Linked DNA regions of Homo sapiens: region 1 is linked to region 2. Evidence: fine-mapped expression QTL. A gene starts in region 2. The other region holds a variant in brackets. All regions are shown on one strand. Distances are between the middles of the regions.

The links. PIP is the estimated chance that this variant, and not a neighbour inherited with it, causes the effect.
Region 1: its variant is fine-mapped to the expression of OSBP2 in whole blood (TOPMed, PIP above 0.99).

The regions. Positions count from the first base shown.
Region 1 is chr22:30,867,514-30,871,513 of GRCh38, reverse strand. It overlaps OSBP2 (oxysterol binding protein 2), which reads right to left. Exons shown (of 14, transcript NM_030758.4): 3 at 832-1,085. Among named protein-coding and RNA genes, the nearest start is that of MORC2-AS1, 53 kb to the left of the region's middle. RefSeq lists enhancers at 2,423-2,958, 2,959-3,495. The variant G/A (reference allele first, on the strand shown) is at 1,650.
Region 2 is chr22:30,692,594-30,697,014 of GRCh38, reverse strand. It overlaps OSBP2 (oxysterol binding protein 2), which reads right to left and starts at 2,141. Exons shown (of 14, transcript NM_030758.4): 1 at 1,462-2,141. The coding sequence starts at 2,105. RefSeq lists silencers at 1,955-2,004, 2,389-2,468.

The DNA.
Region 1 (4,000 bases), 170 kb before region 2:
GGCCACCCCAAGCTCCTACAACTGCACCCCTGGCCCAGATGTGCCGCCCTGGGGGACTGTCCTGGGAGGAGGCTGTTGCAGTCAGACCTGTGTCTGGAGGGTGGAGGCCTGGAGGAGCACGCACACTTCTGGGGAACACTCCCCAGACAGAAAGAGGGAAGCAGGGCCAAGCACTATCCTCCTACCACCATCGAGACACCCTCCTGGCTCCCAGTCCTAGCCGTGTGGCTTCCAGAGCCAGGGTGAGCGGCTGACTCCTGTGGCGGGGCTGCTTAGTTTACAACTGCGGTTACCTGCTTTGTCTACCATCAGGTTGGCACGACCTCGGCAGGCTCAGCTCTGAGGCCCTTCTAGCTCAGGGAGCCCTCGACTGCAGCCCCCCACCACACCCTCCCCTTGTTGTGCACAGCGTCTGCTCCCACTGCATCTGGGGAGTGAACCCAGGGAGGAGGAGTAGCAGCCACCGAGGGCCAGTGTGGCAGCTGTGTCCCTACTGTGTGGGCAGAACTGACCTGCTGGGCTAGCTACTTAACTTGGGGCCCCGACCTTCCTTATCGAGGCATGAAGTAAATAACTGCAGACTGCACCAGAGTCCACAACCAACTCGTTTCCTCCAGACAATTAGGAAGAATGTCCTTGCCCAACGACGGCCGAGTGAAGGAGATGATTTAAGAACTCGGAAGCTAGCTGGGGGGCGCTGGCTTTGGGAAACACCGTGGAACCGCAGGAAATGGAACGCTGACCCTTCAAGCTGACCCTGGTCACCCACCGAGGGACCCCGGGGCTGGAGCCAGGGAGCCCCGTGCCAGGGCGGTGGGGGTGGGTACTCACGTTGATCATAGCATTGGATGTGATGCGGAAGAGGGTGGCCCGCTCATTCACCACCTTCAGCTTCTCCCCACTCTCAGATGGGATCTTGAGGCCGTCCAGCTCTGTCAGGGAGCGCTGGAGTGCAGCGCCGTGCTTGGCGATGAGGTCATTGCACGTGCTGAGGTCATCTAACTTCAGGGAAAGATTCTTCAGGGTGTGGTGCAGCTCGCTCTTGTCGGCTGGGGTGGTAGCCTCGTCGTCGTCCCCAGAGTCATCTGTGGAAGAAAATAGAGTTGTTACGGTCATTACGAACAGACGTGGTACCAAGAGGCCTGCACAGCCAGGCCGAGCAGGGCAGGGTGGATAGCGCCATTCAAAAAACATCAGTCCCCGAGATGGTGCCCGTTCCTGTTCCTGGCCGGGGTGAGGTGCCTGCCCCATCCTGGCCCAGCCTTCCCAGGGTGGGGTGGGCAAGGGCCCACCTGAGTCAGTGGGAAGGACTGTAAAGAGAGCCCAGATTGAATGGCAGGGCCGGGACTGGGCTTTGGAGGCGGCAGGCCTACAGGCACCCACCTGCATGCAGGGCGCCAGCTCCCTACATTGTGGTGTGCAGGGAAGGATGGGCTCTGCTGGGTGGAGAGGTGGAGACTGCTCTCTGGGCACAGAGGCCCCCAGAATGGAGCCTGGGCTCCTTTCTCAGCATCGCAGGCCTACCCCAAGCCAATCACCCCCGTCCAGTCAACCTCACTTTGCTCTCTGCTCATGCCCATCCCCCAGCCACACCAATCTGTCCCCTGTTCCCTGCAAAGGCCTGAGCGCTCCTGTTTGGGGCCTTTCCC[G/A]CCATGTCCCCACTGCATGGAACCTTCTCATATCTGCCCCCACCAGAGGTCCTGCCCCACCCACCCCTTTGAGGGCCAGCCCAATGCCACCTTCTGTCCAAACTCTGCCAAAAGAGCCTGGGCAACATGACAAAAGTCTGTCTTCTACAAAAAATAGAAAAATTAGCCGGGCATAGTGGCATATGCTGATGGTCCCAGCTACCCAGGAGGCTGAGGTGGGAGGATCACCTGAGCCCAGGGAGGTGAAGGCTGTAGTGAGCCATGATCGTGCCACTGCACTCCAGCATGTGTAACAGAATGAGACCTTGTTTCAAAAAACAAAACAAAACAAAAACACCCAAAACACAACAACAAACAAACAAAAACAAAGTCTGCCAAAAGGCCCAATGTCACAGTTGAGGCTCCCCTTCACCGATCTCCCTGCAGGAACACAGCCATTCTCACTGATAGAATGCCTTCTGTGTGCAGACACGCTGTGGCCCCTCAATGGCCTTGCAGGGTAGGGACTGGACCATCCCCAGGTGACAGATGAGGAAATCGAGGCTCTGAGAGGTGAAGTCATACCCACACTGCCTGGCTGGCCACCCTCTTCCTTCCGGGCTGCTGAGGCCTCCATGAGAGAGGCAGGCTGTGCCCTCTGCCAGCTCCCACGCCCCCTCTTACCTCTCTCTCACGCAGCTGCCCAGGGCCCCTTTCCTGCCAGCCCAGCCTGCATCTGGGGTTATGGGGCTGTGGGCGTCTCTGGGGGGTGGCGCACCACAGCAGGTGGGGCAGGAGGCAGCTGGCCTAGGGCCAGGCTGCTGTTTAACAATGGCACAGGACACCAAGAGGCTGACACCACCCAGTGAGTCCCAGAGCCTGTAACTGCCAAGGGGTTTCTGAAATGCCTTGTTTAGAAATAATCAGCTAAAAACTATTTTTAGATGAAGAAAATCTGTAACCCAAGATATAAGACTTTTTTTGAAAAATAATGCATACTGTGAGAGAACGTTTCTTCCCACGGCAGGCAAGGTACACGGGGGTGGACATGGCTGAGTCACTGTTCCGAGTGCACGTGGTGTCCATGGCAGGGTCAGGCCAGCCAGCTGCATGGGGCCCAAGCCAAGGGGAGCTGAGGAGGGTGCCCACGGCATACCCTGTCCCCCTCTGGCCACAGGGGCTTGGGTCAGCATCCAGCCAGGAGGCAGGGAGCCTCCCATCACAACTGCAGCCCCCAAATGACAATAACTTGTTATTCAAATGACCGCCTGCCCCTCTCATGGAGGCCCCAGCAGCCCAGAAGGAAGACAGTGGCCAGCCAGGCGGCCTGAGCATGGCTTCACCTCTCAGAGCCTCAATTTCCTCATCTATTGCCTGGGGATGGGACAGTCCCTACCCTGGCAAGGCCATTGAGAGGCCACAGCGTGTCTGCACTCAGAAGCCCAACTGCGGCCCCCAGACGTCTGGAGGCCACACGGGCTGGGCCAGGGTCTGGGCCACTGGCTCCGTAAGCTGTTGCTCTGGGCCTCACGGTAGAGGTCAGTAGACAGTGGCTATTCTTCCCTCCCTGCAGGCAAGAAAATGCAGGTTCTGAGAGGCCAAGCCACCAGCTTAGTGCCCAGCTATTGAGGGGCAGGGTTGGGATCTGAGTCCAGCTCTGTCTGCTCACAAGCCTCCCTTTCTCTGGATCAGCCTTAGAAAGGCTCTAACGGCTGATGTGTACCACACCTTTCCGGGTGCCAGGCTGTGGGTGAGGCGCTGCCTCAGTTAATGCCTGCGAAGACCCCGTGAGGTAGATCTGGGGACGGAAAGGTACATTGAAATTGCCCAGGGCCATGAGGTGAGGAAATTCCTGAGTAGCCAGGTCTCTGGCTTTAGAGCCTGTGCTCTTACCACCTGTCCCTGAGGCACACGTCATCTTCCAGGTTCAGTACATCTAATAACCAGAACGGCCAGCCCCCTGTCCATCAGAATGGCCCCCGGCTCAACACGGGGAGGGCCTTGAGGGGGTATGCCCAATGCAGATGCGGGTCAGCCCAAATGTGACCCCTGCTCTGTAAGCAAGAGCTGGTGAGAGGTACAGTGAGTCTAACTGTAAGCATGTTAGCATCCTTCTGTGTGGCAGGTGGAAGCAGGTAGCCACATTTCTGTATAACTTGTTATTCAAGAGTACACCTTAGTAAGCAGCCCTTAAGGTCCAAATTCAGGTCCCCAGGGACACAGGGACATGCTTGTTCTGGCCTCAAGTCACTGGCCGTGTTGTTGGGGCAGGATGAGAAGGCACTTGGGCCAATGATTACCCATGAGCACAGTCTGTTCTGCAGAGACAGGCAGGGAGAGGTCCCCTCAAAGGGACAGAGAGATCAGGAGAA
Region 2 (4,421 bases):
AATGGGCTCTGTGTCTCCCCATCAAACCTCAGAACTCCTCATTTGTAAGACAGGAGAGGCCGGTGTGGTGGCTCATGCCTGTAATCCTAACACTTTGGGAGGCCGAGGCAGGCGAATCACCTGAGGTCAGGAGTTCGAAACCAGCCTGGGCAACATGGTGAAACCCCATCTCTACTAAAAATACAAAAAAAAAATTAGCCGGGCATGGTGACGGGCGCCTGTAATCCCAACTACTCAGGAGGCTGAGGCAGAAGAATTGCTTGAACCTGGGGGGCGGAGGTTGCAGTGAGCCAAGATTGCACCACTGCACTCCAGCCTGGGCGACAGAGCAATACTCCGTCTCAAAAACAAAAACAACAAAAAACAAAACCCTGTAGTGGGTGACTTGAAGGGATACTGTTGGCTGAATGAAGTGAGTGAAGTGACCTGAATTTCAGCAACAGCAAGTCAAGGTCCTTTTGTGTGCAGCAATGAAACAGTGCTTCTCAGAGTGTGGTCCTGGACCAGCATCACCAGCCACGCCTGGGAAGTTATTAGAAAATCCGAATCTCAGGCCCTTCCCCTAGGCCCACTGTAACAGAAATTCATTGGGGAGGCCCAGCACTTTGTGTTCCAACAAGCTCTTCAGGGAATGCTGATGCACACTCAGGTTTGAGAACCACTGGCATAGACTGATCTGAGTTCTCAAGGCTTAAACCAACCATCCCCAGGAAGCAGACCCAGGGAAGAGCCAGTAAGAAAGCAAAGGGAGGCTTCAGTAACCTCCTTTCAACCAGTTTCAGTGGGAAGACAGTGTTAGCTCTCTCACCACTGGACTTTAATTTTGAATCCCGTGCTGGGTCTGGAATAAGAAAGGAGGGCAGCAAAACACTTCCTAGCTCTCCGCAAAATGCCAAGATGGACTCCTGAAGGCCAAGAACCGTGTCCAATACATCTGTGAGTCTGTGGTGCCCAGCCCAAGGCCTGGCAACCAGAGGCATCAGGAAAGGTGGGAGTAACTGCCCCAGGCGGGAAGAATAAGCAGCCCTTCCTAAGAGTGTGGGTCCTAAGGACTGAACAAGGTGACTCTCTCCCTCAATCCCAAACACACAATGATGTTAGCTCCCGAACCAGAAAGGGCAAGGACTTTGAGGGGCTGACTCTAGCTAGCTGCCCCAAGCCCCACAACTGCCAAGCAGAAGGGAACTGAGGCCCCAGATCACTCCCTTACTCCACCTCCCCACTTGCCCAAAAACCCAAGCTTGCCAGAGGTCATGTCCGCAGATCACATTCACCCTTGCCAGAGGTCAGGGCCCCCGGCCCTTGGCGGCGGGCCAGAAGCGTGACTTGGCCTGCTGGAATGCATGCCCCTAAACATCTCTAGACTAGTGGCAGTGTCCGCCAACCATGGAGGCCCTCCATCACCATCCCTGCAGCATCACCACCCTCCAACCCCCATGTCCCACCCTGGCGCTTCCATACCTGTAGTAAGAGAGCAAACCATTGCCCAGCACGAACCAGCGGCGCTGGTAGCCCTTCAGATAGTTGGTCCACTTGAGAAGCCAGCCCTCGAAGCTGTCCAGAGGCAGTAAGGCCAGTGGGGCACTGGAGGTCGTGCCAGTCCCCGACATTGGAACCCCAAGAGGAGTCTTCGCCTGTCCTGGTCGCAGAAGAGGCAGGGGCTTTAACGCTGGCAGCGATCCTGACTCGGGTCTGAGAAAGGTCGCGCTCCCCACCGCCCGGGAGAGCGGCTCCGATGCGGCCTTAGTGAAGGGCCCAGCCCCTACACCTGAGCTTGACTCTGACCCCGGCCGCGACCCCTGCAGCAGTTCCGATGGCTGCCCAGCCCCTGGCTCCGGCTCAGACGTCGTCTCGGACACAGGTTCCGATCTTGGCACTGCCTCCGAAACTGCCTCCGACACCTGTTCTGACAGCGGTCCCCGCTCCGGTTCGGGCACGGGCTGGGGCTGGGGCTTGGGCTCCGGCCCGGAGCCGGACGTGGAAGCGCTCATGCCCGGCGCCGCCGTGTGGCACGACAGGCAGGGGACAACCGTGAACAGCGACGAGAGCCCGCGGGAGCGGCCGCCACAGCCGCCGCCTCGGCTCGGAGCCGCCGCTTTCCCCATAGAGCCGGCCGACCCGCGCGCGGCCGAGCGGCCAGTGGGGGCGGGGGGCAGGCCGGGGGCGGGGCCGGGGGCGCAGTCACGTGCGCGCGGCGCGAGGCGGGGGCGCGCGCGGGTTCCTCCGCGGTCCCGTGCGCTCCGTGCCCGTCAGCGCCCGCCGGCTGTTGTGCTCTCGGCCAGCCTCGGGCCATGTTTGGACCCTGGGTCCTTCCTAGGTCCGGCCGGTGGAAGGAGCTCTGACAACACCTGTGGGCGGAAGAGCTTGGTGGTCGGTCAACTCCGAAGGGGATGGCGCGCTTCAGGCCACGGTCTCTGCTTCGGCCCAGCCGTGCCAGGCGCTGGAGGAACAATGATGAATGCGGAGCCCGCCAGCTCCCAGCGCAGCTCTGCCCACGGGACCCTGCGCCGACGCCCCCTCCCCCAACCCAGGCTGGGGTGGGTTCGCTCTCCGCCACCCAGGAAAGCCGGGTGGGAAGCAGGTACGGCACCCAGAGGCCACGAAATGCGCACGAAGCACAGGGGCGCTAAAGGCTAAAGACGACGCCCCGCCCCCCATGGCAGCCATTACCTGTCTGTGGGTCGCTCCTGCGGCCGCCAGAAGCGGTGGCCCCAAGTGGCCGCCTCACCGCCTCCACCTCCTGAGCCAGCTGGCCTACGGTTCATGCCAAGGCGCTTCGCTGCCAGTGACGACATCGTTCGGGTTCTCTAAACAAATAGGGGAAGACTTTTTGTAAACCAAGCGTTTTAGTACAAGAAACATCTCAAAGTGGGATTCTGAACTTGGACCTCCCGGGATCCCTGGGTAGGCTGGCAGTCTGTGAGGCTTCCGCAGAGGTTTACCTGTCTGTGCATTTTTCCAGAGTAGGTCCATAACAAAGGAGGCTGTGACCCCAGAATGGTTAAAACATCAGCGAATTTTTTTTTCCGCTTTTTTTTTTTTTCCTTTTTGAGACTGAGTCTCACTCGGTAGCCCAGGCTGGAATGCAGTGGCGTGATCTTGGTTCACTGCAGCCTCCGCTTCCCAGGTTCAAGCGATTCTCCTGCCTTGGCCTCCCTAGTAGCTGGAATTCCACGGCCCGCACCATGCCCAGCTAAATTTTGTATTTTTAGTAGAAACGGGGTTTCACCATGTTGGTCAGGCTGGTCTTGAACTCCTGACCTCAGGCCAGGATCCTCCCGCCTCGGCCTCCCAAAGTGCTAGGATTACAGGCGTGAGCCACTGTGCCCAGCCATCAGTGATTTTTTTTTTTTCTTAAGAATCTATCCAAATGACGAAAGTTGATGGTTACTACAAATAATCAGAAATACAAATGGAAAGACTGAACATTGGGTTTCTGTCCAGACTTTTCAAGCTTAGACCTCTCTGCAGACTCCTCTTAGCTCACCATCACGTCTTACTCTCCCCTTACCCACCTATCCATTCCTGATCTTTGCTTGTGACAAGATAACCTGTGTAGGGACTGCTTCCTACGTGAAGTGGTCCCCAGAAGGAAGCAGATTGGAAGGTCCTAGAAATAGGAGGTGCAGACATGCACTGAGCAGGAGCCGCTGGCATCTTTGCTGGTGACTTTGAGACCCCTTCCTCAGGCACTTGTCTTTGAATGGTGGTCTTACCTGCAATTTTGCTGTGAGCTCTGGAGTGCAGAGAGCCCCCCATCTTGGTCTATCTCATATGTATGACGGTGACCCTCAAACTTCAGCATGGTGAGTCCCCCCAAGGAAAAGTGATTGCCTCTGGGGTGTAGTGGGGGACAGAACTGGACAACTGAGAAATGAGGTGGAATGCTTGCTTTTCACTCACACTTTGAACCTTTTGTATGTTTTACTGTGTATGTTTCACTGTGTGTATGTTTCACCGATTCAAAATAATGATGATAATTGTTAAAATCACCCCAGGGAGGTTTATTAGAAACACACTTTTCCAGAGCTGGGCACGGTGGCTCATGCCTGTAATCCCAGCACCTTGGGAGGCCGAGGCAGGCAGATCACGAGGTCAGGAGACCAGTCTGGCCAACATAATGAAACCCTGTCTCTACTAAAAATTAAAAAAATTAGCCGGGTGTGGTGGTGTGTGCCTGTAATCCCAGCTACTCGGGAGGCCAAGGCAAGAGAATTGCGTGAACCCAGGAGGCAGAGGTTGCAGTGAGCCGAGATCGCAACATTGCACTCCAGCACGGGCGACAGTGAGAGACTCCATCTTAGTAAAAAAAAGAAAAAGAAATTCACTTCTCCATCCCCAGTAAGTCAGAGGTGGAATCCAAGAACATGCTTTTTTTTTTTTTTTCTTTTTCTTTTCTTGAGACAGTGTCTTACTCTGTC